Linked DNA regions of Homo sapiens: region 2 is linked to region 1. The links come from fine-mapping of genetic effects on plasma protein levels. A gene starts in region 1. The other region holds a variant in brackets. All regions are shown on one strand. Distances are between the middles of the regions.

Region 1 (15,839 bases):
TCATGTCTTGACTTTCTTCATTTCAACTCTGATTTTGGTTTTCCTTGCCTGCTGCTAGTTTTGGAGTTGATTTGCTCTTGTTTCTCTAATTCTTCAAGTTGTGATGTTAGGTTCTTACTTTGGGATCTTTCTTTTTGATGTGAGCTTTTAATGCTATGAATTTCCCTCTTAACACTACCTTAGCTGTGTCCCAGAGATTCCAGTATGTTGTTTCTTAATTCTCTTTAGTTTCAAAGAACTTCTTGATTTCTGCCTTAGTTTTATTATTTACCCCCAAGTCATTCAGGAGCATGTTGTTTAATTCCCATGTAATTGCATGGTTTTGAGTAATTTTCTTAGTCTTGGCTTCTATTTTTATTGAGCTGTCGTCTGAGGGTGTTTTTGGTATAATTTTGGTTCTTTTGCATTTGCTGAGGATTGTTTTATGTCCAATTATGTGGTTGATTTTTAGAGAATGTGCCATGTGATTATGAGAATAATATATATTCTATTGTTTGGGGGTAGAGAGTTCTGTGGAGGTCTATCAGATCCATTTGATCCAATGTTGAGTTCAGGTCCTGAATATCTTTGTAAGTTTTCTGCCTCAATGATCTGTCTAATACTGTCAGTGAACTGCTGAAGTCTCCCACTATTATTGTGTGGGCATCTCAGTCTCTTTGTAGGTCTCTAAGAACTTTCTTTATGAAGCTGGGTGCTCTTGTGTTGGATGCATATATATTTAGGATAGTTGGTCTTGTTGAATTGAACCCTTTACCATTATGTAATGCCCTTCTTTGTCTTTTTTGGTCTTTGTTGGTTTAAAGTCTGTTTTGTCTGAAATTAGGATTGCCACCCCTGCTTTTTTCTGATTTCCATTTGCGTGGTAGATTCTCCTCCATCTCTTTATTTTGAGCCTTTGGGTGTCATTACATGTGAGATGGTTCTCTTGACAACAGCATACAATTGGGTCTTGCTTTTTTATCGAGCTTGCCACTCTGTGCCTCTTAAGTTGGGCATTTAGCCCATTTACATTCAAGGCAAGTATTGGTATGTGTGAATTTGATGCTCTGATTGTGTTTTTATGCTGGCTTGTTTGTGTGGTGGCTTTATAGTGTCACTGGTTTGTGAATTTAATTGTATTTTTGTATTGGCTAGTAGCCCTCTTTCCTTTCTATAGTTGGTGCTCTTTTCAAGATCTCTTGTAAGGCAGGTCTGGTGGTAACAAACTCCCTCAACATTTGCTTATCTAAAAGGGATCTTATTTCTCTGTTGCTTAGGAAGCTTAGTTTGGTTGGATATGAAATTTTTGGCTGAATATATATATATTTTAAAATGTTGAATATAGGCCCACAATCTCTTCTGGCTTGCAGAGGTTCAGCTGAGAGGTATGCTGTTAGGTTGATGGGGTTCCCTTTGTAGATGACCTGCCCTTTCTCTCTAGTTGCCTTTAACATTCTGTCTTTCATTTTGACCTTGGAAAAGCTGATGATTATGTGTCTTGGGATGATCTTCTTGTGTAGAATCTGGCAGGGATTCTCTGTATTTTCTGAATTTGACTGTTGGCCTCTCTAGCAAGATTGGGGAAGTTTTCATGGTTGGTATCCTAAATTGTTTTCCAGATTGTTAGCTTTCTCCCCATCCCTTTCAGAGATGCCAATGATTTGTAGATTTGGCCTTTTTTCCCCATATTTCTTGTAGGTTTTGTTCATTCATTTTCCTTCTTTTTTCTTCATTTTTGTCAACTGTCTGATTGCAGAGAGCTAGTCTTCCATTTCTGAGATCCTTTCCTCAGCTTGGTCTATTCTCCTATTAATACTTGGATTGCATTGTGAAATTCTTATAGTTTGTTTCTCAGCTCTCAGCTCTGTCAGATCCGTTAGGTTCTTTTTTTATACCAGCAATTTAATCTTTCAGCCTCTATATTATTTTATTGTGATTTTTAATTTCCTTGAATTGGATTTTGCCATTGTGCTAAATCTTGATGATCTTCATTTGTATCCGTAGTCTGAATTATATTTCTGTCATTTGAGTTAGCTCAGTCTTGTTAAGAACCCTTGTTGGAAAACTGGTGCAGTTGTTTGGAGGACATATGACCTTCTGGCCATTTGATTTATTGGAGTTCTTACGTTGGTTCTTTCTCATGTCTCTGTGTGGGTGTTTCTTTAACTGCAGTGTAGATTGAGTACAGCCAATAGACTTCTTCTTTGGAGGTTTTCACAGGGCCAAGGCCTTGTACAGGGTCTTTATTTGTAGCTGACTTCTTGTCTTTGGTTTCATAGTGGGGCATGTTAGCAAAATAGTTTTGCTGTTGAAGTTTTGGGGTGTGATCCATTTTTTATTTTAATGATTGTGTATTTCCTTTATACCTAAAACAAGCAGAAAACCAGTAAAGGTCTTTGAGTCTCTGAATTCATAACTCCAGCATTCATATTGCTTCCTCAGGTAAGTGGGGTTTTCACCCAGCCCTTAAGGGTGTTAGATTATTTTTTATGTGAAATTAGCCAGATTGTATTTCTAAACATGATGTAAAACAATAATGACAAAAGTTATAATAAACTAGCCTTCTTACCAAATCCACATGTCTAATGTGTGTGGGAGGGTGTTAGGCAGGGGACCTGCAGCTAAGGGAGAGGCAGACAGGCCCCATGGCCCCAAATCTAGGATAGTATTTGGTATTGGTTGATGGGTGAGAGAAAGAGAGGGAACATCTGTGCAGGATGTGGTATCAGCACCTGGACTACATCTTAGGGATTCCTTCTTCATTTTTCAGTATGCCCTGACAATAATTATATCTATCAGACTTACCCCCTTGACCACTGGAACACTAAGACTGTTTTGGGATCTCTGCCTGACTTTCTCAGAGGTGCTGGTGAGGACATTATGAGTCTGGAACCTAGAAAAGCGTTCTGACTCTGCTGACTTTCTCAGAGGTGCTGGTGAGGACATTATGAGTCTGGAGCCCTAGAAAAGCGTTCTGACTCTGCCACTAGCCAGACAGACCTGGACTAGGCACGTTAACTCTTTGTATGACTTGACTCCAACCCCTCATTTGTAAAACCAGCATTTTCAAGTGGTGTTTTCCACATCAGCCTTTTGCATAAGCTGTCATTTGAAGAAAGGTTTTTGTTTGTTTGTTTTTTGTTTAACAAAAAGGTTAAAAACCACTGGTCTAGATAATTGCAAAGTTTGCTTTCCTTTTTCTGTGCTTTTTCTACTATTTTTAAAATGTCATCCTCCTTGGTTTCTTGATCCCCCTTTCTGCACTCCTGAGTCTGGGAACACTGAGGCCAACTAAAAGGAAACTTGGCAAAAGAGGAACACCTTTGGGTGTGCCAGGCTGCTCCCAGTGTTTTGCACTTATAAAAATTTAAATGCTGCAAACCTCTAAGACTTAGATATTATTGTTCCTATTTTACAAGTGAGGAACCTGAGGCTCAGAGAAGGTGCAGGATGGCACAGGGAGACCTGAATTGGAACCCTGGTTCCCACTTACTGGCTGTCGGGACTTAGAAAAGTCATGAACTCTCATTGATTGTTTTCTTATATGAAATGGGGGCTGCAGGGTTGTCGGGGGAGAAACAATAAGAATGTGCATCAAGTGTCGAGCACGTGCTACGCACTCCATCATGGCAGCTCCTACTAATATACAGAATAGAGTTGTATCTAACATGACTCTTTCTTGCAAGTGACAGAAAATCCAACTTAAGATGGATTAAGCAAAAAAGGGGAATTCTTGTTGAGCTGAAAAGTCTTTAGGCTCACATGATGGCCCCAGGGCCCAGGCCCTGTCCAGCCATGCAGTAGGCATCATCCTTGGGCACAAAGGTGAGATTCTTGTGGTGGCAGATGCTGTGGCAGCTCTTGCTTTGCCAGGAAAGACTGAGGAAGGCCACTGTCCCCATTAAGTGAACAATAGTTGGCCAGGTCTGAGAGGTTGAACTTGGGTCACAGGCCTGTCCCTGAACCCATCACTGATTGGCTCCAACCTGCATCAGCTATTACATGCTAGAGGTGGAGGCAGGACCCCACTCATACCCAGAAGGGCAAAGGGTGGATCCCTCAACAGGATTATGGGATGTAGGGTGATAGACTGCTGGGCAGCCAGAAAGCAAACAGATCCTCTCCAATACCTCAACTGATGAAAGCACCAAGCTAAAATCATAAGGATCTGGGTGTGAATTCTGGCTCTACCATCTTCCATGTGACATTGGGCAGTTATTTAATCTCTTTTAGCCTTGGCTTTCTTACCTGTACTAACATATAAGGTGATTGTGATGAGCATCATCATCGTCAACATCATCATCACCATCCACATTGCCACCACCACTCCCATTATCATCTTCATCAACATCATCACCACCGCCACCATCACCATTATCATTACCACCACCGCTATCACTATTATCATCACCCTCAACATCATCACCATCATCACTATCATCACCACCACCATCATCGTTACTACCACTACCACCACCATCATCACCACAGCCACCACCACCATCACCATCATTACTACTCAGCACCACCATCATCATTCCACCACCATCACCATCATTCCACCATCACCATTATCATTACCACCACCACTGTCACTATTATCATCACCCTCAACATCATCACCACCACCATCATCATTACTACCACCACCACCACCATCACCATCATCATCATTCTACCACCATCACCATTATCATCACCATCACCATCACCACCGCTATCATCATGATAATCATTATCATTACCACCACCATTAGCATTATCATTACCACCACCATCACTATCACTATCACCATCACCACGACCACTACCACCATCACCAACACCATCATTACTACCCACCACCACCATCATCATCATTCCACCACCATCACAATTATTACCACCACCACCATCACCACCACCACCACCATCACTATCATCATCAGTAGACATCATATAACCAGTTTGTAGCTGGCCCAGAGCCTACTTGCTGTTTCTTCTGCCCCACAACCATCCACACATTTCTAACCACCATCCCCCACTAGGCTTCTGCCTCGCCTGGTCTCACCTGCAGGTCCACTGAGAAAATGATTCTCAGAACACTAACTAGACCATGAGGTGCCACAAAACATAACTCAGGCCTGTTCATCAATTTTCTACATGTCAATAATGACATCAGGTCAATTGGCGTTCTCAGCCTCTGAGAGGGAGGTCAAAGTTTTCCTGCTCTCCCCTTCATGTTTCCAGGTGTTCCCTGACTTGGATCAAATGCAGAGTTTGGAGGTGTTGAGGCCAAGGGGATTTTCCAGGTCAGTCGTCATCCACAATCAATGGACTGATCCTGCCGCTGGACTTACCCTGCTGCCCTCTCCCCAAGGCCCCATCAGGGAGGGCTTCAATCCTCTTGTCACCTGTGGCCTACCTGCCCTCAGAGATGACATCTCTATGTCGGCCACTGGATGGCAGCACCTACTCGCAGACCACATCAACTTTCCTGGCAACTTGCGGTAGGTTTTCACCATTATCAGGATGTTTGCCTTGCTCAAATAGCAGATTCTAGAGAACGGTGCTCCCTCACACAACTATGTAGTCCAGGTGATGCACCCTCTGCCCGATGCTTGGTAGTCAGAAACTTCCATCATGCAGCTCTGCCCAGATTGAGCTGAGCTGGCCTCTGGAGTGAGGTGCTGGGACAAACATCTTCCATGCTGCTCATGTCAACTCCAGATGCAGTCAGGTTTCTGAACCAAAGTCAATGATCTAAGTGCAGTCAAAGGCTCTGGGGGAAGAAAGAGAGAGTGCCTCATCTCTTGCCTGTGCCATGCTCGCAAAGCAAGGATTTTTGCAAAATTCTAATGAAAGCTGGGCTTGCAAAATTAGAAAACTGGATTATTTGTGAGAACACTGAAACATCCCTGGGTGTGTCCATCTGGAAAAACAGCATTTCCTCTGGCAATTTTGCAACCGTTCTATTTGAATTTGGCAAAGAAAATAAAGCAGTTTTTCACAAAAGAATAAACACAACCAGGAGAATCTTCACTCTCCCAAATTGTCAAAGAAGTATAAATTAGAAAATGAATCAGGACAATTTCAACCTGTTAGATTAGCTAATATTTAAAAATTGAACACTCATACAAGTGTGGTGAAGTGATTGTTTTCTAGTGACATTTTACACTGTCATAACCTTCTAGAAAATAAATTGGCAGTGTTATTGGGAGACAGAAATATGTCTATATAATTTATGGGAACTTAGGCTCAGAAAATATTAAGGAATAAGAATGAACTTTATGAACAAAGATGTGGAGGGTTGGAAGCAAGAGGGGGGCCAACGCGCACGGGGAGGAAGCATTTGGGCAGTGACTCCGCAGACCCAGGCTCAGGTTGAACTAGACAACCTCCTTACACCTCAGTTTCCTTAACTGTAGAGCAGGAGTGATGGAACTGCCTGTTTCATAGGACTGTTGTGAGGATGAAGTGAGATACACCACATTATAAGCTTGTGCCTGGAAAGGATAATGCTTAGTAAATGATGACTATTCTTTTTTATTGCAATAAAATGTACACAGCGTAAGAGTTACTATTTTAACCATTTTTGCAGGGTACCACCAAGTGGCATTTAGTACATTCACAGTGGTGTGCAACCATCATCATATTTCCAGAATATTTTCCTCATCCCCAAAGGAAACCTCATGCTCATTAATCAGTAGCTCTCCTTTAAAATATTAGTTATGAAGATCATAGCACTATACAAAACTCATTATGTAATGTTGAGTGAAAAAATCAGGGTGTGAAATTTTGTGATATGATGTAATTAGTGAAAGAAGCATACAAAAAGTCTGAAAATATAAAAACAATAGCAATTGCATTTCTCAGACTCTACATTTAAACATTATTCTTTATGGTTTTAAAAGCAAAGAAAAAGGTAAAGAAACAACAACCAACCGCAAAGCACCATGACAAAGCTCAGATTGTTAAATCCAGGTTTTTGGAACATAGACTCTTATATGACGTTTACACTCTCCAGGGTTCAGAGAGTCTGGCAGCATTGGGAGCTGCCTTGTGTTCTACAGCCTCACGGACAGACAGGAGGTCCATCACCACTGCTCTGTTCTTCTGGAGTTTCCTTGTGAACATGTTGTGGACGTAGTTACCATTTCTTTCATCTTTTTAAACACAGGTACCTTTGGGGCTGGCTTTCTCAAGGAAGCCCAGCTCCCTGTGATTGAGAATGAAGTGTGCAATCGCTATGAGTTTCTGAATGGAAGAGTCAAATCCACTGAGCTCTGTGCTGGGCATTTGGCTGGAGGCATTGACAGTTGCAAGGTAAGAAAAGATCAAGAGACCAAAGTTAGTCTTGTGCTCTCCTGTCTCAGTCTCAGTCCCTTAGACTTGAGTCCCAAAGTAGCGAATTCAAGTAGGATTTAATCAATGGAAGACCCCAGTCTAAGTGTTGCTCAGAAACTCCCTAGATCTGTCCCAAATGTATATTCAGATCATCCAAGGGGACTTCTTGGGGCTTGAGTTCCAGATCAGCAGCAAGGGAGCCATAAGTGCCATAACTACCTCAGACCACTCACCCTCCTGGGGTGTCCCGGTGGCCAGGGACTAAAGTGGTGATTTTTCTGGTAGGGAAGGAGGTAGAGGGTACAGGACAGAGACTAACTGCACACAATATCTGAGACTGGAGCTCAGATATTGCTGATGATCAGAGTTGGCGTGTCTCCCCAATTGATTTACAACTGGGGCTTGGATACTGTTTTAAACGGGAGGAGCCTCCTAACCATCTTGACACAACCACTGACGTGACTACACTAGAGATAGACTCTTTCCACTTAATTCTACCACTCTTGCTTTACTTCATGAGAACGAAAATGTAAGATTGCACCATGAATTCATTTGCGGAAAGATTGATACTATGCTTTTATTTTATTTTATTTTATTTTATTTTATTTTATTTTATTTTATTGAGACTCTCACCCCGGTTGAAGTGCACTGACGTGATTTTGGCTCACTGCAACTTCCACCTCCTGGGTTCAAGTGAATACTCCAGCCTCCCTAGTAGCTGGGATTACAGGTGCCCACCACCACGCCTGGCTAATTTTTGTATTTTTAGTAGAGATGGGGTTTCACCACATTGGCCTGGCTGGTCTCAAACTCCTGACCTTGTGATCCACCTGTCTTGGCCTCCCAAAGTGCTGGGATTACAGAGTTGAGCCACCGCACTCGACCCTATGTTTTATTTTTAAAAATATTTATTTATTTATTTAAGCCACAACTACTAGAATAGGAAGGATTGATATTTTATTAATTTTATTTGGTATTTATTATTTTTTTTTCTTTCCTGAGACATTCTTGCTCTGTCACCCAGGCTGGAGTGCAGTGGCACATTCTTGGCTCACTGCAACCTCCATCTCCTGTGTTCAAGCAATTCTAGTGCCTCAGCCTACTTAGTAGCTGGGATGACTGGCATGTGCCTCCACACCCAGCTAATTTTTGTATTTTTTGTAGAGACAGGGTTTTGGCATGTTGCCCAGGCTTGTCTCAAACTCCTGGCCTCAGGTGATCCATCTGCCGTGGCCTCCCAAAATGCTGGGATTATAGGCATGAGCCACCACCCCCTCCTGGAAGGATTGATATCTTATAACATAATTTATAATTACAGAAAACATGTGAGTTCACTAGGAATAAATAAATTTTGAAGATAATAAAAGATTTTCACTTATGTTGTCATTTCGGCACAGTTTGGTATAGGATGTGGAGATGTTAACATTTATACCTAGCTTGCTCGTAAACTAAGACCTGAAAGGGTTGTGTCTATCAGCTGCACCCCTGGGTAGCGACACAACCTCGGGAAGGCCTCAGCCCCCTCCTCGTACAGCACTGCCTGTTGGAAAGCTTGAGGGAGGCTATGGATGTGCAGCACTTGGCAGAGGGTCTGGTCATGGAAGTTACCAGCAAATATGAGCTACTTTTATGATTTTATTTTATCCAAAAGAAAGAGAATGAAAGAAGAGGGGAGGAAACAAGACTAATCAGGAAAGATGAAGGTCTAGGGGTGAGGGAAGGAGTAAGGAGACATAAAGGCAATGTGGAGCAGCTGAGGGGGGAAATGGCTTTCACCACTTCCCAGCATCTATTGACATTGCACTCTCAAATATTTTATAAGACTCTATATTCAAGGTAATGTTTGAACCCTGCTGAGCCAGTGGCATGGGTCTCTGAGAGAATCATTAACTTAATTTGACTATCTGGTTTGTGGGTGCGTTTACTCTCATGTAAGTCAACAATGTCCTGGGATTGGGACACACTTTCTGGGCACTGCTGGCCAGTCCCAAAATGGAACATAAGGAAGTGGTTCTTCTACTTCTTTTATTTCTGAAATCAGGTAAGACATAGTTTTTTTAAATTATAAGAATTATTTTTTCTCCCACAATGTAGTAAAAATACATATGCCATGGCTTTATGTGCAATTCATTTAATTTTTGATTCATGAAATTCCCAGTTCAAAATCTTGTATATGATTGAAAAATTCTTAAAAAAATAAGTTTAATTTCCCCGTGAAGACTGTCACGGTGCTGGAATGAATGGGCAGAAAAAATAATGGTTGATTTTTCTAATCTAAAAGAGTGTGCCTACATGATGGCCAGTCTGGCTGAAAAATAAATAGCCATTGTAGCTAACTATGCAAAGGATGGCTAAGCTCTTCGCTTGGTTCTCAGTTTCATTAATTTATATCATCTCTGTTCAGGTGCCATGCTCCCCTCACTAGCAAGTTGAAACAATGAAATAACTCTTTGAATATGTTTGGTTCCTTGACCTGTTCATGGAGTGGGACTCAGCATTTCTCTCTTTGTTATGGCCTGAGTAAGGCTTTCCATCGGTATACATTTGCTTCTTATCCCTGGAGAAATTATACACATCCATTTGCCAGATGATATACGCATATAATGATTCAACAAATACTCAGGGTATTTGTTGAGTGGGTTAGGTCCCCACATTTTTATACATACATACACACATACACACCGTGTGTGATTGTGAATGTAAGTGTGTGTCCTTTACAAATACTAGCTTATTTAGCTCATGGTATAGGTAGGGTAGCATAGTCATCCCCATTTTATAAACAAAGAAATCTAGACTTAGGAAAATCATGTTATTTGTCTCGTGACCAAATTCCCAAATCAAGGAAATAAAGAAACCTGGATTTAAGCCAGATTTCCAAGAAAAAATCTAGGGCTCTTCTCACTTTTTCATCTTTGTTCCAACATTTGAAAAAATAAATCTAAACACATTCCAATGTAACTGAAGAGCAGGTTAATTGTTTGCCACTTGCAGAATCCAATTAAGAAGAGAGAAGTCTGGTATAAAGAAAGTGATTTGCTTCCAAAGCTAGCTTAGGGGAAGAAATGCAGCAGTCCTGCCGTACTACTTCACTTTAGGAGCAGAAAGTGGCACTTTTAAAAGGCAACAGAGGAGGCGAGCAAGGATTCAGGGGTCCATGCTAGCTTGGGCACCTTATCCACCAGGTAGTTGAGCAGTTGCCTGCTGGTGCCTTTGTGAGCAGGGTGTTGTCCCTTGAGGCAAATCTCTGGAGGGTGAGAGTTTTGTAGTGGGCATGCTTTGGTTTATAAATCACCTGTGAACTCAGGAGTTCCATCTTGAAGCACATACATAGTTAGATGAACTTGCCCTGCAGGGAGAGTCTGATGAAAGGGAGGTAGATGCTTGCAATTTAATCTATAAATTACCAGATAAAATTTTACAAGTTGACTTTAAAGTCAAACACATTTGAATTTAGTGGAAGCCATTCAAGAAAATATCAAAGAAAATACAGAGCAGGAGAAGATTAAGCAAAGAGTTTTTTGGGGAAATTGGTGTCTATGTCTGTGTGTGTAGGGAGTGCAGGGGATATGAATATTCTATTTCAGCCCATGGAAACTAGGATGTAGATCACTGTGAACTTATTCAGCAGGCTACACCCAAAGGCTAGAACAAACTTCTCTGCCACAGGATTAACATATGTTTTAATCGACCTGGGGGGCACATTCTCTGATAAGCTCTTTTGGAAAGCCAGGCTTTCTGTGGACGTGTTATCTTTCCAATGTGTGCTGGAATGCCCGGGGAGAGGAAAAAGTTTCTTTTACAGCCATGCTCAGTGAGAAGCGGAGAAACATCTTCTATTCACAAATTGCTAAGTCTTTTACACATGCAAATATGCATACACATTCACACACCACAGTGAGGAAGAAATTCTCACACCATTAATAAAATACATTTACTTCAGTAGCAATATACATCTACATTTTGCCTATAATATAAAAGTATTTTTCCTATTAAAAGATTTGTTTAATGTTTCTTCACCAACAAATAAACCCTATTAAATCCCCATTGCCATATGAGCCCTGGAGGTGAATCAGAGAAACAAAAGGATTGTGGAAAAATCATCAGGTTAAAAAAAGAAAAATTGATTCTGTTTTGGGATATTTCCTAGCAACATGAGCTGGGGAGGGGATCTCAGCAGTGATGCTCTATGAAGCATAATAAAATGACACAGTTACAGGTAACTTAGTTAAAGGGGGAAATAAATGGAAGTTTCCTCTTTTTGAATATCAATTGTAGCCTGCTCTGCTACATTTCAAAAACACTCTTCAAAATGTTTAACTGAACTCACTGTAGGAAGCACCTTATTAATTTATTGTGTGTTTTGAAGTCACACTGTGAGCTATAGAATTTACCCAAGCACAACTCTTCCTGGAAAAGAGAGTTCAAATGAGAAACAGTGCGGGGTGAAGACATGGATATGGGCCTAAAATATCTATTTCTCAATGATATTTTGATATATCTATCAAGTGCTTTTTAGTGGATTAGGTTCAGAATGCATCAGCCAATGCCTGTTCAATAATCCAGTTTTCCAGCATAGAGCATATTAAATTGAGGAAGGACAAAGTCACAGAGGTGGGGAGCAGGTGGACTGTGGCCAAGGACTTTGCATGAAACAGTGAGCGTGCATCCTCCTCCTTGCCCTGCCCTCATGGTCTGTGTACTCTCAGGAGGTCAGGACAGGCCTTTCTGAGAATGAGAATCTGTTCATCTGCCTTTCTACTGGATACTTGTCATCGGCATACAAACACATGTTCTCTGCAGTGTGTCATCTTTCAGAACCTCCCCTGACCCTGTATTCCCTAGAAGTCTCGCTGCTTTCAGAGCCAGGCTTCTCTCCTGCTGCCACCCCCACTGCTCTTCTAGTCACTCTTTAACCCACTCCATCTGCATGTGGCCCCCACCACACCCCTCAAAGTGGTCAAGGTTGTCCTGTTGCTTAATTCCATGGAAGCTTGGCTATCTTCATTTTATTAGCCTCTTTTGGCCTCTCACCCTGTGAAAATCACTACATTTTGTGCCAGAGATGGAGCTGGCATCTCCAGGCTTGGAAGAGGGCTGCTGAAGCTCAGCCAGGTGTCCTAAGGAGCCTCAGGACAGGGGATGCTCAGTAGCCTTGCAATGGGAACACAGCTGAGCCCCACTTGGCCACCCTTTGCCACAACCAGGCAGAAAGCAGCTTTTGAACAGATTTGTTGCCTCAGATTTGATCTCAAAGAAAAATCGTGGGCAGTATTGGTCCCAGGTTCTGCTTTTTTACAATTTCCTCTGAAATCTGGATGCCTATCAACACCTTGGAAAAACTGAATTCTCCCCAACTAATAGTGGTGTGTCACTGTAGTAAGCCTAGTACAAAAATGGCCTTCTTTGTGGAGGAGCTTCATATCCTCCATTTTTTTTTTGCTTAATTTTTGCCCAAGATGAGAACATAATTTAGTTCACTTTTTATTTATTCCCAACATCATCCATGCACCAACATTTTTGTAACTAAAGGAGGGACCATTCAGAAGATGCTTATCAACTGTCAAAGTGACAGTGTTACAACCAATGCACATATTGTAAGAAATCAAACAATGGCCTCCAAGGTTCATTTCTACACAGGGATTAGCAGATCAACATCAATCTTGGCAACACAGTTGCCACTGATGGTGTCTTATTTTTTTTATCATGACATGGCAATCAAGAGCAAACATGATTTATTCTTATTTAAGATTTTATGGTTAGACTAGGCAGATAGCTAGATATGAGCAGGAGGTGGAAGCCCCTGAGAGAATGGAGGTCTGGAGAATCTGAAACCCCAGAGATTACCCAAGTCCTGCATGCTAGACATGAGTGGAGGAGGGGGAATACCTAGGTAGAAAAGAATGCCCCTTAAGATGCCCAGCAGTCGCTCACTGTGCAGTTAACTTTTCAGAATGCTGCTAGATACATGCTGATAGGGAGGGAAGAGGGCAAAGGAGAAATTCCTAAGAGATACACGGTTGCAGTTAGTATACATCTGAGTGCTATACAACCTTCTTTGGGTGGTGGCAAGAAGCAATGCAGCCATTACGTAGAATTCATATCAAACACCTGTATCACAGGTGTTAAAGAAACAAGAAACATTGTACTTCTTGTATTCTTAATAATGATTTGCAATATTGTCTTTAGTATCACTGCAAACCTCTATAAATATGATTTTTAAAAAGTATTTCTTTAGGTTGGAATTACTTCTACGCATTGACTTATCTTCCTGGGTTTCATTAGCCGTACCCGTTGTACTTTCTTCCTTACCACTGTTTATCTCAAACTCTTGAGATTAAAGTATGGGCTCAGGAGGGAGCGAGGAGCTTCAGGACTCTCACGGACCTCCAGCACAGTGTAGCTGCCTTATGGAAAAGTGGCCACACTGTTTTCTGCACTGGTCCCTGCCCCTACTATTCCTCACTGGGCAGAGCACAGCCACCCTGGCCCTGCCTGAACATTTTAGTCAGTGTTGGCTCTGTGCTTCTCTGGGGAGGAAATCCAAGAGACAACCCACAGCCCCTCTGCCATTTCAGCTGCAGCAGTACCACCGTTAATGCCCTTGGGCTTGAGAAAGAAGGGACCTGGCCACTTCCCTGACACCTCCAGCACACAGCAGGGAAAGAATTCCAGTTTCTCTTTCTTGTGAGCTTTCACCTGCTACTCTTCACCAGGCAAGGCTCCTGGCTTGGGCCCACAGTGCAGGCACCTCGAACTCAGTTGAACATTTCCACTGGCTGCACTCTGTGTTTTTGTGGGGTGAAGCTCCCAGAGGTGACTGAAAGTCCTTCTGCCACTAACACTGCAGTCATACTGCCCTTGCTGTACTTGGACTAGGGAAGGAAAAAAGATCCTGAGTGCTTTACTCACACCCCAGTGTGCCCCAGCCACCCTATGGAAAAGAGGCCAGTGTGTCATCCCTGCAAGCACCCTGAGGCCCCTGCCCCTGCTGCCCCCAAGCTGTAGAGCCAGAATATAAAGCTGGCAGAAAAATGTAAAAAGGCTAGACTGGCTTAGCCTCCCAGCCTACATCTTTCTCCTGTGCTGGATCCTTCCTGCTCTTGAACATCGGACTCCAAGTTCTTCAGCTGTGGGACTTGGACTGTCTTCCTTGCTCCTCAGATTGCAGGTGGCCTATTATGGGACCTTGTAATCTTGTGAGTTAATACCACTTAATAAGCTCCCCTTTGTGTGAGTATATCTATATCTATAGATAGATATAGGTATACTCACTATATATACACATATATACATATACTCTCTCTCTCTCTCTCTCATATATATATATATATAATCTCCTATTAGTTCTGTCCCTCTAGAGAACCCCGACTAATACAGATTTTCATACCAGAAGTGGTTCTTGAGGAACAGAATATTAAGGATGGAATTCTTTCATTGGTTTTGGGACTTCTGGTGTTGGCTGATTAATATGATTAGACCAAAAAATGCTAAGGACTCTACTTCTAATAGTATGGAGAACACTGATAGTACTTGGCCTGAATTGTTTAGAGAGTTATGCAAAATAAATGCATTTGACACTACTGATTCATCACTTATGAGAGGCAAGGAGTTTAGTGACTCTATACATAATACCTTTGACTATATGTGGAGAACCAAGGAACATAATGAAGTTGGTTGATTGCTCCTAAGTTCTCTGGAGAAAGAGATGAAAGAAAATGATGATCTCAGGGGATCTGTCTCCCACCTTCAGAAGCAGATACTGAGCCACAAATCTGCTAAGATTGCCCTGAATGAGAGTTTTAACTCCTGTAGAGAAAGAGTTGAAATTGTGAAAAAACAGAGACAAGCTGTTATCATGCGAGTAGCTGATCTGCAACAAGAGGTGCATGCACAGCCTTGCCAGGTGTTTACTGTTAAAGTGAGGGCATTGACTGGAAAAAAATGGGACCCTGGAACTTGGAGTGGGGATGTGTGGGAGAACCCTGATGAAGCTGAGGACACTGAGTTTGTGAACTCTGATGAAACTTTTTTGCCAGAAGAAACAGTTTCCCCATCCCCAGTAGTGGTAACATCCCCTCCCTGACCCGTGCTGCCATTAGCCTTTCCACCTTTGTCTGAGGATGTAAACCCTGCACTGCTTGAGGCAACAGTGATGGCCTTCCCTGAGGCAGCTGCCAGGCAAGATAATGTTGATTCTCCTCAAGAGGCACCCCTAATGCCCCTGAATGCTTCTAGACCTATAACTAGGCTAAATTCCTTGCGGGCCCCAGAGGTGAGGTTCAGAGTGTGACCCATGAGGAGGTGCATTATACTCTAAAAGAACTGCTTAAGCTTTCTAATTTATATTGGCAGAAATCTGGAGAACAGGCATGGGAATGGATATTAAGGGTAAGGGATAATGGTGGAAGGGACATAGAGTTGGATCAAGCTGAATTTATTGGTTTGGCCCTACTAAGTAGGGATTCTGCATTTAATGTTGCAGCTCGGGGACTTAGAAAAGGTTCTGATAGGGCCGGGAGCAGTGGCTCACGCCT
Region 2 (15,839 bases), 65 kb after region 1:
GGTAGAAGAAGAATAGTACAAGAAGGGAACTTTCTGCAGCCCATGTAATGAAGAACCCAGCAATTGGCAAATGTAGATGTAAATGCAAAATATTTTCTTGACCAAATTTCTATATATTTTTAAATGAGCGTTGACTACTGGAAACAAAATGATAGCAATATATTTAATTTTAGCATATGTAGAGGTAAGAATTTGAACAAGTAGCGTAAATCATGTAGGGAATAATTAGAAGTGTACCATTGTAAGTTTCTTACCTCATGCACAATGGTATGTAATATTAATAAAATGTTACTGTGTGGGTTCAAGGAGATATTGCAAATCCTAGAGCAATCACAAAGTTTTGAACTCTGAGGTATATTGTATAATAAGAATATTCCATGTATTCAAAAGAGAGAAGCCAAGGAAGAAAGAAATTTGTCACGAGTTTGGGCTCTTAGTACATCCTGTAGCTCATTGAACCAGCTTCCTGGAATGGAGGGTCTGGGATTGACACTAGGCCACATGTATAGAGTCTCTAGAGAGACAGTGTTTCATCCCCATGGCCCGTAATACATTTCCCATTTTCTCAGGCAGCCACAGGTCATGAATGTGAGGATAGAGAGAGGTTGGAGCAACGTTCTTGGGAGGCATAAGGAAGAGCAAATGCTTCAAGATCCCCGCAGCCCAAACTCCTACCTGCTTTGCCCCCTAATGCAGTGTTCCTCCGTAGCTGTCCGACCTCTTCAGATCTCTTAGTCTACCCTGCCATCTTCCTTTATGCCATGGGTCCCACTGTTCTTTCAACTCATCCCCCTTTCCCTCAGTGCAGAGTAGCTGCGGCCAGCAGAGGGTAGACTGAGAGCAGGAGAGAAGGTCCTGCCCAGGAACCCATTCTAGAGATGCTGCATTCTGCCTGGGAGCAAGTTTTCCAGGGCAGCTTTGAGAAGTCTTGCAGAAACAAACCTATTTGACCCACATGATATGGGAATGACAGAAAGTAATACAATTTGCACAGTGCTTTTCCATGGGAAAAGTAGAGCCTTTTCGCGAGGTTTTGAGTACATAGAGAGTGAAGGTTGACCTGGAAAGGTTATCCTCCTGGATCCCATGTTTTTTCTGAAGAACTACCTGTTAGTTGCAACTTGCACATTAGAATATGAAGTCCTACCGAGAGAGATACGGAGAACTAGATAAATACAGATACTTTTGTATGTGAATAAACGATTCCACAATACACACATCAAAATCCATACCAGTTATTCCAGAGAGATGGATTGGGCAGAAGGCAGAAGGAGAATACTCTGATCGTTTTTTGCCCACGTGTATGTATTATCTCAGTGTTTCTAAGAAGCGTTTGCTACTTTAGATTTTTTTTTATAATAATAATCTTTTAAGTATGAGAAATGTGCAGACAGGATTAGTGATTGAGAGCCATTTGTGCTTGTGGCAATCATATGGTACTTTTATGGGAATATTAGAAAGGCACTGGTAATGACCTTGTTGCAGCACAAAGGAGAGGGTGTGGGGTGCCCCTGCATATTGTCCCACCTCTTGTGACGTGTATCGTTTTGGAATTTCCAGTGGCTTGATCATGAACTACTGCAGGAATCCAGATCCTGTGGCAGCCCCTTATTGTTATACGAGGGATCCCAGTGTCAGGTGGGAGTACTGCAACCTGACACAATGCTCAGACGCAGAAGGGACTGCCGTCGCGCCTCCAACTATTACCCCGATTCCAAGCCTAGAGGCTCCTTCTGAACAAGGTAAGGAGCCTGTGGCCAGAAACCTACACGTTTCGATGCTGGGATGAAAAGCCATGGAAATTCCCACTGATGCAGCAGCCTCCAATGGTAAACGGATGCTCGAGTGTTGACTGAGTTCTGTCATGTAGGAGGAAGCCTCCGTGCACTCTCTGGGGGAGCCAGCGGATTGATTTCTGGTACAACGTTGGGTGGGCTGTGTCTTTAGAATTGGCACAAACCCTCCAGGGTGATCGACTTCACAACTCACCTCGTTGAAAAATGGGCTATCTCAGTGTCTTAGCCAAAATTTTTATTGTAACATGCTGTCAGATGTGTGACTCTTTCCAAGCCAGTAAGCTTTTCCTGGGACTTCTTCAATTAGCCAGCATTCAGTGCAATCTTCAGCATTGCAGATTCAGAGAAATGTGGCTCTGGAGCCTGTCACCCTTGAGAAACAGGGCTAACAGGGTTGCATTAATTCCAAATCACCCTGGTTCTATGGAGCAGTACATGAACTCCCAATGATCTATGTTTCAGGACTTCCTCAGTCATAGGTGGGCTCTGCAGCCCTAGGTTTTTAAGTGAGTGACTGCCCCGTGTTCTGGTGGCAGTTGTACCTGTGAGCGGTCTGGATAGAAAGAGTCGGAGACTTCTGTATTATTGCAACTCAGGATGTGGGTCATGAGAGGATTTCATCTCTCCTGCAGGGGAGTAAGCTGTTCGCCTCCACCCATCCCTGATAACTGAAGTGTCTTTGTCTGCAGTCCTAGACGAAGGACTGTTGTCTCTCCCATGGCCCAGAAGCTGAAGACCTTGCCTTTTGTTATGAAACGTTCATTGTTTTCATGTCTGTCCGTTTCTCTGCCCCTAACACCCAATCACCATGTATGGCCTGTACCCCCAAATGCATCGTGCTTTGCTGTTTGCTGCCCCATAGTCCTCATGAACATTCAGTAGAAATTCCCATAAATGTGCTTGCACGTGAGCACAGTTTCCATTGAGAAGCCCTCTCATTTGTCCTTTTTTTCTAAGCTTTTATGTGAAATATTTCTAAGAACTTACTACAGTTCTAAAGTGTTAGGAATTTGTTTCTTTGGTGTTTTTGTTTGTTGGTTGGTTGTTGCTTTTCTCAAGTCCATCTGCCTACAAATAAAGAAACAAGAATGTTACTTGTCATATTCTCCTGAGGTCATAATTCTCAGAGACTTTTTTCTGGTTTGTGCCATAAGTGGCTTCACATGTTTGTCTCTTCTTGGAAACACTCAGTTTGATTTCTTTTCTTTTCATTTCAGCACCAACTGAGCAAAGGCCTGGGGTGCAGGAGTGCTACCACGGAAATGGACAGAGTTATCAAGGCACATACTTCATTACTGTCACAGGAAGAACCTGCCAAGCTTGGTCATCTATGACACCACACTCGCATAGTCGGACCCCAGCATACTACCCAAATGCGTATGTCTATTTTCTTTACCATAAGTGAAGGAAGGGTCAGTGGAAATTTCTGTTAGTAGAGTCATGCTTCAAGCTGAGTGTTCAGGACTCAAGTTGTCTCAGATGAACAGTGCATAGCAAAATGTCTCAGGAACATTGTCTTTGAGCAAAGAGTCTAAGAGAAGACAAATGTTAATCTGGCTCTCCTTCCTCCTAGTTTAATGGAGCAGAAAGGTATCTGGAGGCAAGGATATCACATTAAGAAACAAGTCAAGATGACAAATGATGAAACTCTTAGAGTACCCTTCCACAACACCCACTAAGGTTCAATGCAGCCTTTTCTCCTTGGAATTCTATTAAACTAAACTCCAATTCCTGAAGTGAAGGTTCTGTTGGGGTTTTCTGTTTTGGCTTACAAGGAAAGTATATATGTATATCTATGGAGAGGCAAATCTATCTCTTTCTATATCTACGTCTATTCCAATATGTAGAAACACAGTCGGTTCTGACCACCAGTGGTCTGAAGGGATACTGGTTGTTAGAGAATAAAAATGGCAGGAAGGCAGATGAGAGTCAGCAAAGAGAGAGATCCTGTAAAGTAAAAGGGTGGATAGATGGACAGAAGCCCAGGTCTGACCAGCCCATGGCCAGGCTTTAGGCCATAAGTGACACCAAAGACATGGAAAAATGGTTTCTACATGTTGGACAACAGACAGTAGTGGACCAAAAGAATAGTGACAGGGGGAACAATGAGATCAACTCCATAGATACCTTGGCTTTCTTCCTGGAGGCCCTTCTTGCACTGAAGAGCAAGGTGATGGAGCCCAGATGGACTGTAGCCATCTTCCTGAATGCAGGAGAGAGATTGGAATTTGGGACTACTGTGGTAGCTAGGATTTTATAGGCCTGCTGAGAATGAGAATGGATTTGTGGATGAAAGGAGCTCCAGGGGCACGCATAGTAGTCTCCTCGAATCTTTGGCTAAACATGACGTTGCATGTGCCCAGAAAAAGGTTCCACAAGAAAGTAGAGAAAAGAATATATCCTGAGGAATAGCAACTGCGATTGAACAGTGAGCTCAATAAAGAGGACAGAGCCCTCATAGCATTCTGGGATACTGGAGTTCTGACCAGCTGGAGGAGAGACCTCACTGAACCTCTTGGGAATACAGTAGAGACTCCAGAAAAGTCATACTTTAGGAGTAGAATTAGTAAATTTCTAGAAAAAAAGGCAGCTCTAGACAAACCCTGGCAAAACTGAAAAGCAAGTCTCCAAGCATTAAAATCATTTCCAAGTCAATTAACTGCCTGGGAGAGGAAAACCCTCTTTAGAGGTAAACAACAAAGTCAAGTGGCTCAGCTATGTGGTGTTCACAGTGTGAGTTCTAAATTTAAAACTTGACTACACATAGAGAAGCTTTTAGTATGAACCATGACCAGGTGAAAAATCAGTCAATACAAATAGACCTAGAAATGACAGAAATGATTAGAATGGCAAAAAATTTGACATATCAATATGTCAACTGAGTTTTAGGTTTTAAGAAAACATGAATACGGAATGAAGCAGATACCATATCAAGAGACAGTAACAGTATAGAAGAGCCAAATTAAATTAAAGAACTAGTATAAGAAGGTATGTCTTAAATGAAAAAATTACTGGATGTATTCCCAATGGAGTGAGATGTTTCAGAAGTAAAAACTAACTGAAAAACAATTTTATACCACCTACAGAACCAGCTACACATACACAAATGACACACACATATACACACATACTCACACATGCACAGGCTTAGAAACATGCACGCACACACACACACACACACACACACACCTCCACAAATACTAAAAAATGAAATCCACTGATCCTCACAGACAGGCGGGAAAATATAAAAAGATTTCCTGCATGTGGGTAGGAAGTCACAGAAGGAGAGGAAGGAGAGATTGCTACAGGAACAAATACTGGAAGCAAGGATAGCTAAAAACTTTTCAAATAAGAAGAATATTAAAAACCACAGATTCAAGAAGCTGAATGAATCAGACAGGGAATTTCCAAAAAAAAAAAAAAAAAAACTGTATGATTCACTTTTGTACATCACCGTTCAACAGTCAGAAGGCAAAGATATAATAACAAGAAACATCTCATGAGAAACTGGAGGAAAAAGAGCTGTGTCTTGCTAGAAGAACAGTGATACAAATTGCTAATGCATTCTCATCAGAAACACTGGAACCCAGTTAACAGGGGATATCATTAAAATGATAAACTAGAAAAAAAAGAGATCAAATGAGAATGCTACATCCAGCAATAAAATGCCTTGAAGATCATCCATGTTGGATAAATGCATATTGTGCACTGCCCCAAATAAATAAACCAAAAACTAATAATTTGGAATCAGCAGGCTTGTGTAACAAGAGATGTTGCCCAAAGAAAATTAGCTAGAAGAAGAATAGTTCAAGAGGAGAACTTTCTGCAGCCCACGTAATGAAGAACCCAGCAAATGGCAAATGTAGATGTAAATGCAAAATATTTTCTTGATCAAATTTCTATATCTTTTTAAATGAGAGTTGACTACTTGAAGCAAAATGATAGCAATATATTTAACTTTAGCATATGTAGAGGTAAAAATTTGAACATATAGACTAAATCATGTGGGGAATAATTGGAAGTGTACCATTGTAAGTTTCTTACCTTATCCACGATGGTATGTAATATTAATGAAAGGTTGAATTTGTGGGTCCAAAGGGATATTGTAAATCCTAAAGCAATCATAAAATTTTGAATTCTGAGGGATATTATATAATAAGAATTTTCCATGTATCCAAAAGAGGGAAGCCAAGGAAGAAAAAGAAGTCTTTCAAGTACTCAAGCTCTGAGCACATCCAGTTGCTCATTGAACCAGCTTCCTGGAATGGAGGGTCTGGGCTTGAGACTAGGTCACATGTGTAGAGTCTCTAGAGAGACAGTGTTGGATCCCCATGGCCCATAATACATTTCCCGTTTTCCCAGGCAGCCACAGGTCACGAATGGGAGGATTCTGAGAGGTTGGAGCAATGTTCTTAGGAGGCATAAGGAGGAGTGAATGCTCTGAGATTTCCCCAGCCTGAGGTCCTCCATAGCTGCCCGACCTCTTCAGACCTCATAGTCTGCCCAGCTGTCTCCCTTTATGCCATGAGTGCCACTGTTCTTTCAACTCATCCCCCATTCCCTCAGTCCCGGAATTGCTGTGGCCAGCAGAGGATGGACTGAGAGCAGGAGAGGAAGTCCTGACCAGGAACCCATCCTAGAGATACTGCATCCTGCCTGAAAGCTAGGTTTCCAGGGCAGCTTTGAGAAGTCTTGCAGAAAGAAACCCACTTGACCCACCTGATACGGTATCGACAGACAGGAATACTTTTTGTGCAATGGTTTTACATGCTGAACATAGAGCCTTTTGGCTACATTTTGAGTACATTGAATGAGACTGCTGGCCTGGGAAGGATATCATGCTGGATGCCATTTTTTTCTCTGGAGAACTATGTGTTAGTTCCAACTCGCACATTACTATATGAAGTCCTACACAGAGAGATACGGAGAGCTAGACAGATAGAGATACTTTTGTATGTGCATAACCAATTCCACAATACACACGTCAAAATCCATACCAGTTATTCCAGAGAGATGGATTGGGCAGAAGGCAGAAGGAGGATATTCTGATCCCTTTTTGGCCACATGTATGTATAATCTCAGTGTTTCTAGGAAGTGTGTGCTGCATTAGATTTTTTTTCTTTAAAAAAAGTGATAATATATTAAGTATGAGAAATGTGCAGAGAGGATTAGAGATTGAGAGCCATTTGTCATTGTGGCAATTGTATGGTATCTCTTTTGGGAATATTTCAAAGGCACCAGTAATGACCTTGTTGTAGCAAAATATACAGTGTTCCTGCATATGTACCCATTTTTTGTGATGTGTATTCTTTTGGAATTTCCAGTGGCTTGATCAAGAACTACTGCCGAAATCCAGATCCTGTGGCAGCCCCTTGGTGTTATACAACAGATCCCAGTGTCAGGTGGGAGTACTGCAACCTGACACGATGCTCAGATGCAGAATGGACTGCCTTCGTCCCTCCGAATGTTATTCTGGCTCCAAGCCTAGAGGCTTTTTTTGAACAAGGTAAGAAGTTGTGCCAGACATTTACCTGCTTGGATGCTGGGATGAAAAGCCATGGATACCCCCACTGACGCACAACCCTTCAGTGCTACACTGGTTCTCGTGTGTTGGTTCTGGGTCTGCCATGTGGGAGGAAGCCTTAGCGCACTCTCTGGGGGAGCCAGAGGTGTGATTTTTGGTGCAACCTGTGCGAGCTGTGTCTTTAGGATGGGCGGAAACCATTCTGGGTGCTCGACTTCACCACTCCCCTCATTGTAAAAGGGGCTATCTCATTGTCCTAGACAAAATTCTTATTGTAATATG[C/G]TGTCAGATGTGTGTGTCTTTCCAAGCCAGTAAACTTTTCCAGGGATTTCTTCAAGTAGACAGCATTCAGTGCAATCTTCAGCATTGCAGATTCCGAGAAATGTGGCTCTAGATCCTGTTATCCTTGAGAAACCTAACTGGGTTGCATTAATTCCATATCTCCCTGGGTCTGTGGAGTAGTACATGAGCTCCCGAAGCTCTATCTCTCAGGTCTTTTTCAGTCCGAGGCAGGTTGTGCAGTTCTTAGCTTTGAAGGGAGTGATTTTTTCGTGTGCTTTTGCCTCTTTCTGATGGAACTTGTACCTGCGGGGGGTCTGGAGAAAAAGAGTAGTAGACTTTTGCTTTATTGCAATGCATTATGCTGGGCACGAGAGGATTCCCTATCTTATTGTAGGTGATAAGCTTTTGGCCTCCACTCATCCCTGAGAAGTGAAGTGTTGTTGCCTACAGTTTTAGCTGCAGGACTGTTGTCTGCCCCATCACCAGGAGTTTAATGCTTTCTTTTTTGAGCAATCATCTAGGGACACATGCAAGGTTTTTATATGTCCTTGCCTCCTCCCCAAAAAACCATTTTAATGCTTGGAGACTTGCTTTTCAGCTTTGCCAAATGCATCACCCTTTCTTCTATGCTGTTCCATGTCGTCATGAACACTCTGTAGAGATTCCTAGAAATGAGCTTCCATGTTAGTGGAGTTTCCGATGAGAAGCAATCTGATATTTCTTTTCCACTAAGTTTTACATGAAATATTTCTAAGAACTTACTACAGTTCTAGAATGGTAGGCATCTCTTACTTTCGTGTTTGTTTGTGTGTTTTCTCATGTCCATTTGCCTATTAATAAAGAATAGAGAATGGTTGTAAATCTCAGTGACTCTTTTTTGGTTTATGTCATAAATGGCTTCCTGTATTTTTCTGTTCTAGGAAATAATAAGCTTGATGTCTTCTGTTTTAATTTCAGCACTGACTGAGGAAACCCCCGGGGTACAGGACTGCTACTACCATTATGGACAGAGTTACCGAGGCACATACTCCACCACTGTCACAGGAAGAACTTGCCAAGCTTGGTCATCTATGACACCACACCAGCATAGTCGGACCCCAGAAAACTACCCAAATGCGTACGTCTTTGTTCTTTACCATAAGCGAAGGAAGGGCCAATGGAAGTTTCTGTTAGAAGAGTCATGCTTCAAGGTGACTGCTCAGGACTCAACTTGGCTCAGATGCAGAGGAACATTTCCTGTGAGCAAAAGTTCTTAGAGAAGACTTTGTTTTTTTGAGACAGAGTCTTGCTTTGTTGCCCAGGCTGGAGTGCAGTGGCATGATCTCGGCTCACTGCAAGCTCCGCCTCCCGGGTTCACACCATTCTCCTGCTTCAGCCTCTCTAGCAGCTGGGACTACAGGCACCCACCACCACACCCGGCTAATTTTTTGTATTTTTAGTAGAGACAGGGTTTCACTGTTCTAGCCAGGATGGTCTTGGTCTCCTGACCTCGTGATCCGCCTGCCTCAGCCTCCCAAAGTGCTGGGATTACAGGCGTGAGCCACCGTGCCTGGCTGAGAAGACATTTTTTAAGCTGGCTCTCCTTCCTCCTAGTTTTATGGAAGCAGAAGGATATATGGAGTTGAGAAGATCTTATTAATAAAACAGCCGGGATGACAAATGACCAAAGAGTTAGAGTATCCTTCTACAACATCGGCTGAGGGTTAATACAACCTTTTCACCTTGGAATTCTATCATTCTAAGCTCTAGTCCCTGAAGTGAATGTTGTGTTGGCCTTTTGCATCTTGGGTCACAGGGAATTGATACTTGCACATCTATGGAGAGGCAAATCTTTTTCTATCTACTTCTTTTTCAATGGGTACAAACACACTTGGTCCTGAGCACCAGTGGTCTGAAGAGATACGGTCTGCCCAGAGGAGAAGAACAAAGGCAGGAAAGCAGATGAGAGTCAGCAAAGGGGCGATGCTGAAAAGTAAAAGGGGCGGGTAGATGGACAGAAGCCATGATCTGGCCATTCTATGGCCAGTCTTTCGGCCATAAGTGACTACCAAAGACACGGCAAAACGGTTTCCACATGTTGAACAACAGATGCTAGAGGACCAAGAGTATTGCAAGAGGGAGAAAATGAGATCAACCCATCAATGCCTTGGCTTTCTTCAAGGAGACCCTTCCTGCACTGAAGAGCAAGGAGATGGAGCCCAAGCTGACTGTAGCCATGTTGCTGAACAGAGGAGAGTGATTGGACTTTGGGATTACTCAGGTAGTTAGGATTTTCTAGCCATGCTAAGAGTAAGAATGGACTTGTGGAGGATAGGAGCTCCAGGCATAGAAGTCTCCTCAAGTGTTAGTCTAAACATAAAGCAGCACTTGCATAGAAGATTTTCCACAAGAAAATATGGCAAAAAAACACCATATATTGAGGAACAACAACTACAAGGGAACAGTGAGCTTAATAAAGGTGACAGAGCTCACATAGTGCTCTGGAATATTGGAGTTTTGACCAGCTAGAGAGAAGAGACCTCATTGAAAATCTTGGGCATTCAGTAGAGACCTCAGAAAAGTCAGACTTTATGAGTAGACTTTGTATATTCCTAGAATAAAGGCAGCTCCAGAAAAAACCTAGCAAAGCTGAAAAGCAAATCTCCAAGCATTAAAATGGTGTCCTAGTCAATTAACTGCCTTCTAGAAGAAAACTCAACACTCTTTACAGGTGAACAACAAAGTTAAGTTGCTGAGCTATGCAATATCCACAGTGTGAGTCCTAAATTTATAACTTTACTACACATAAAAAAGCATTTAGTGTGAACCATAACCAGGAAAATAATCAGTCAATAAAAATAGAACCAGGAATGATAGAAATGATTTAAATGGCATGAGAATTTGACATATTAGTATCATAACTGCATTGCTGGATTTAAGAAAACATAAACATGGAACGTAACAGATATCATATCAAGGGAAAGTAAAAGGATAAAAGAGTCAAATCAAATTAAAGGACTATTAAAAGGTATATCTTAAATGAAAAATTCACTGGATGGTCTCCCAATCAGGTTAGTTGTTTCCAGGGAAAAAATTAACTGAAAAATAATTCAATAGAATCTACAGAAATAGCTGCACATATATACACACAATGGCACACGTGCACACACCCACACCCACACAGGTGTGAATCCTAGAGCCACACGAGCATTGAAACATAGAGAAGTAAAAATTGTTCATTGAGGAATATGTAGCAATGCTCAATGTGTTTTACCCTAATAAGAGCTTTTGTGATGTATGATTGAAAAACTGACACAACTGAAGAGAGAAATAGATAAGCCCACACTCTGAGTTAGAGATTTCCTTGATTCTCTCACTATGGTTATAAATCTTTCCCAAACACAACAGGCTAGAACAAATATGCAGAAAATTAGACATAGTATCTTTGTTCTCAATAAAAACGTCGACCTATTTAACATTATACCGAACTACCGAGTACACATTAAAGTGTGCATGGAGCATTCACTGAGGTGTACTCTACACATGACCTTCCAGCAAGTCTCCATAGATTTAAAAGAATTAAAGTCATACAGAGTGTGTCACTTTATTCTCCCAGAATAAAGTGAGATATGAATAATGAGAAGTTTGCCAGCTTCTCAAATATTTGGGAGTCATACGGTGCATTTCAAAATACTCTTTGGGACAAAGAAAACATCACTAAGGAATTTAGAAAAGTTTTGAACTGAGTAAGAATATAACACAATTTATCCAAACTTAGGAGATGCAGTGAATGTCTTTAGGCTTTTACATAATTTTAGATGCTCTTAGGGAAAAACAGAAGCATGTAATAATCAAGATTTCAAACTGCAATTCTCAAAGTGTAGTCTAGAGAAACCTGAGGACCTTTGAGTACCTTCAGAGACAGTCCATGAGGTTAAAGGACTTTGCTACGTGAAAAGTAAGATGCTATTGGCCCTTTTTACTTTCATTTTCCAACAAGAGAAGAGGGGAGTTTTCCAGCAGTTACATAATATGTAATGGCATCATGTCTCTGATGGCTAAGAAAATGGGCAATTGTTGACTTTGTGTGTTAAAAAAATTCTCAGTGTTGGTTTCTTATACTATAAATATTCATCTTGTGTTTTGAAAAAGAAAAGCTCTTTGGAATCCCCTATGAACAAAGACTTTGACAGTTGTTGATCTAAGACCACAGCTTAAATATCTACACAAGAAAAAAAAAAAAAGCAAATAAGAGCCAAGGAAAGCAGATGGAAGGAAGTAGTCCAAACCAGTGACATTCAGTGAACAAGAAAAGAGACCAACAAGGGAGTAAACTCTTGAAACAGAAAGTTGATTCTTTGAAAAGATCCATATGATTGAACACAGTCTGGCTAAACAAATGACAGACCAATGAGGGTGCACAACCATCACCATCTGGAGTAACAGAGGAGAGGTGCCATTACTATAGCATCTTCCAGTTCTGAAAGCTGAAAAGAAGATTTTGAGAACAATTGTATGTGAATAAATTCAGGAATGTTAATCATGTGGGCCAATTCCTGAGGAAGACAACAAATCAGCAAACCAGATGCTGAATAGTTAGTGTAGTCCTGTAGAGAGACATACAGAGAGGCTGACAGAGAAATATTTGTATGTGCATAAAACAATCTACAAGACACACTTCAAAATCAATCTCAGTTAATCTGGAGGAACATATTTCACAGAAGGTGGAAGGAGGGTATTCTGATCCTCTTGTACATTGTACAACATTGTACAATGTACAGAGTATAATTGTACAAGTACAATTGAAGTTGTACAAGTACAAGTGCAACTTGCACAATGTACAGAGTAAACATTGATGTTTACTCTCAATTTTCTTATGGAGCACAGATGACTTTGGATGTGTTACAATATGAATGATAATTTGTCTTTGAGATGTTCGCAGTTGTTTAGAAGTTGAGGACCATTTGTGCATATTATGGGACCTTTAGTGAAAATATTTCAAAGTCTCTTTTTACACTTTGTTACAGCAAAATGTAGAGGGCGCTAAGTGCCCTTGAATCTTCTCCCATCTCTGGTGACCTGTGTTGTTTTGAAATTTGCAGTGGCCTGACCAGGAACTACTGCAGGAATCCAGATGCTGAGATTCGCCCTTGGTGTTACACCATGGATCCCAGTGTCAGGTGGGAGTACTGCAACCTGACACAATGCCTGGTGACAGAATCAAGTGTCCTTGCAACTCTCACGGTGGTCCCAGATCCAAGCACAGAGGCTTCTTCTGAAGAAGGTAGGAAGTCTATGGCCAGACAACCACACCCTAGGACGTTGGGATGAAAAGAGTTGCAAAATCTTAGTGATATAGAAGCCTTCCATGCTCACACAATTCCAAGTAGAATGTGGACTCAGGGTCAGCCACTGGGAAGGAACACTCAGCGCCTTCTCTGGGAGAACCAGAGCTGTGATGTTTGGTACCCTGTGAAAGGGTGGTATCTATAGGAAGGGTGCAGACCCTCTAGGGCACTGGACTTACCACTCCCCTGGTTATTCAAAGGATCATTTTAGTGTCTTAGCCAGAAGAATATTCTAACATTTTGCCAAATTTGTGAAGATTTACCAAGCTCATGATAAGCCTTTCATGGTATTTCTTCAAGTAGTCAGTGTTCATTGCATCTTTGGCTTTGCGGTTTCGGAGGAATGCGGTTTTTGAGTCTGTCATCCTTGAGAAACCTAATATGACTTTTCTTAGTTCCATATACTTCTGGGTCCAGGTAGCAGTACATAGCCAACAAATGCTCCATCGTTCTGGCCTATCTCCATCTTAAGCCAGTCCTGCACAACTAGGCTTTGATGGGAGGGATCTCTCAGTGTTCTTGCCCCTCCTTCTCATGGAACATATATCTGTGTTGGTCTCTGAGAAGAAGAGTAGTGGATATCTACTTTGTTGCAATGCAGAATCCTGGGCCAAAGATACCAGCCATCCCTCCAAGGGAATAAAATTTTGGCCAGTAGCCCTCTCTGAGAGACAATTTGTCTTTGCCTACGAGTCCTAGATGCAGGACCGCTTCCTGCCCCATCTTCAAGAAGCTGAAGGCTTTGGCTTTGGAGGATCAGCAGTCTAGGGAAATGTGTGACGGTTTCATGTCTGTCCCCACTGACAGTCAATCACCACCTACAACCTGCACAGCCTGATGCATAGCAGTCTAGTTTCCTGCCTTATTCTCAGGAACACCCAGAAGATGTCTATATTAAAGAGCATGCACATGAGTGCAATTTTGACTGATAGGCACTCTGATCTTTCCTTTGGTGCCTGTGTTTTAAAGGAAATCTTTCTAAGAACTCGTTAAAGTTCTAGAATGCTATGAATCTTTGGGTTTTATTATTGGTATGTCCATCTGCCTGCTAGTACAGAACAGAGCATGGTAGTCTTTCTCAGAGACAATGATCCTGTTTCAGTCACAGATTTCTTCTGATGCTTCTGTGTTCTAGAAATTACTCAGCTTGATTTCTCCTCTTTGAATTTCAGCACCAACGGAGCAAAGCCCCGGGGTCCAGGATTGCTACCATGGTGATGGACAGAGTTATCGAGGCTCATTCTCTACCACTGTCACAGGAAGGACATGTCAGTCTTGGTCCTCTATGACACCACACTGGCATCAGAGGACAACAGAATATTATCCAAATGGGTACAACCTTGAGTTTTCTTCAAAGACAGACAGCAGCCCCCTTACATTTCTCTTGGAAGGGCCATGCTTCCAACTAACTTCTTATGACAAATTTATCTCAGATCTGGAATGTTGGGTAGAATGTCTCAGGCTTCTTTCTTCAGGCACAGTGTCTGAAAGGAGAGAAATGTCAGGCCAGCTCTCTTTTCTCATAGTTGACAGAAGCAGGAGGATATTTGAAGGTGGTGAGTTCTCATGAATAGAAAGCTCAGGACACATGGCCACGTGCTTAGAAATAGCACCATTCCACAATGCCCACTAAAGACCAATGCAATAGTTCAACCAGGGATTTCTGTCATTCTAATCTCCAAGTCCTGAAGTGAAGGTTGTATTAGCCATGTTCATCTTGGGCAACAAATAAAGGATATCTATGTTGACATCCAGATCTTCCAATCACTTTCTCCTCTAACCTGTACCTGGGTTCTGAGAACAAGGTATCTGAAGAGCTATGTGTTGCCAGCACATGAGGGGCAAAAGTAGGAAGGCAGCTGAGAGTCAGGAAGTATAAAGATTCTGAAGAGTTACACATGCAGGAAGATGGACAGAAACCCAGTTCAGACCACGTCAGCGTTTCTGCCATGAAGGACTATCAAATACATAGGAAAAGTGTTTTCATAGGTTGGACAACAGACATGACAGGCCTGAGAAAATTCAGAAAGGGAATCAAAGGAGATCAACCTTATCATGTCCCTGGCATCCTTCCTTGAGACCCTTGAAGGGCAAGCAGATGGAGCCCAGCTGACCACAGCAGTCTTGCTTAACTGAGGAGAGAGACTGGAGTTTGTGATGCCTCAGGCATCTGACGTATTCTAGGCTGGCTAAGAATGAGAGGGGATTTGTGGAGGAAAGGAGCTCCAAGAATACACACCGAAGTCTTCTCAAGGCTTTGGCTAAATACAAAGCTGCGTATGCACAAGGAGAGTTTTCACAAAGAAAGAACAATAAAGAAAAGCTACTGGGGAAAGAACAACTGCAAGGGAACAGTGAGCTCAATGGAGATGCTAGAGCTCACATAGCACTGGGGGATATTTGAGTTCTGACCACTCAGAGGAGAGACACCTCACTGAACATCTTGGGCATTCAGTAGAGGTCAAAGAAAGCCATAATTTGGGAGTAGGATCTTCGGATTCCTAGAAATAAGGTGACTCCAGAAACACTCCAGCAACCCTTCTTCCAAGCCAGTCTAAAAGGATCCAAATGATTTCCAAGTAAATTAACTGCCTTCCAGAAAAAAGTAAACTCAACCCTCCTTAGAGGTAAGGAACGAATACAAGTTTCTCAGTTATATGACATCCCCAGAGTGCAACTTGCATTTAAAAATTTACTAGACACAAAAGAAGTTTTCACTGTGATCCATAACTGGGAGAAAAATCACTCAACACAAATAGGCCCAGAAATAATAGAAATTATGGCATTGGCAAGAACATTTAAAATGCACCTCTGAGAACTGTGTTTCAGGAAAATGTCAGCAAAAGCTGACCATGAGAGAAATGAATGCATAATATCAGAAAAGAAAAGAATTGAAGAGCCAAATGGAAA

Direction of the effects. Positions count from the first base shown, and alleles are read on the strand shown. Strength reflects both the effect of a copy and how common the allele is.
For the plasma level of the protein whose gene starts at base 9,237 in region 1, G is the low allele of the variant in region 2 and C is the other (moderate association).

What was found. A credible set is the group of variants that fine-mapping cannot tell apart. PIP is the posterior inclusion probability: the model's chance that the variant is causal. The UK Biobank Pharma Proteomics Project read protein levels with antibody pairs (Olink). The fine-mapping took linkage between variants from a reference panel, not from the people measured, so its PIPs are less certain.
Region 2: its variant is the best candidate, but not a certain one, in a credible set for the plasma level of the LPA protein (UK Biobank, PIP 0.78).

What each region holds. Positions count from the first base shown.
Region 1 is chr6:160,657,673-160,673,511 of GRCh38, reverse strand. It overlaps LPA (lipoprotein(a)), which reads left to right and starts at 9,237. Exons shown (of 39, transcript NM_005577.4): 1 at 9,237-9,346. The coding sequence starts at 9,298.
Region 2 is chr6:160,592,380-160,608,218 of GRCh38, reverse strand. It overlaps LPA (lipoprotein(a)), which reads left to right. Exons shown (of 39, transcript NM_005577.4): 17 at 1,561-1,742; 18 at 3,014-3,173; 19 at 7,121-7,302; 20 at 8,560-8,719; 21 at 12,684-12,865; 22 at 14,102-14,261. Among named protein-coding and RNA genes, the nearest start is that of LPA, 64 kb to the left of the region's middle. RefSeq lists an enhancer at 2,060-3,259. The variant C/G (reference allele first, on the strand shown) is at 7,603.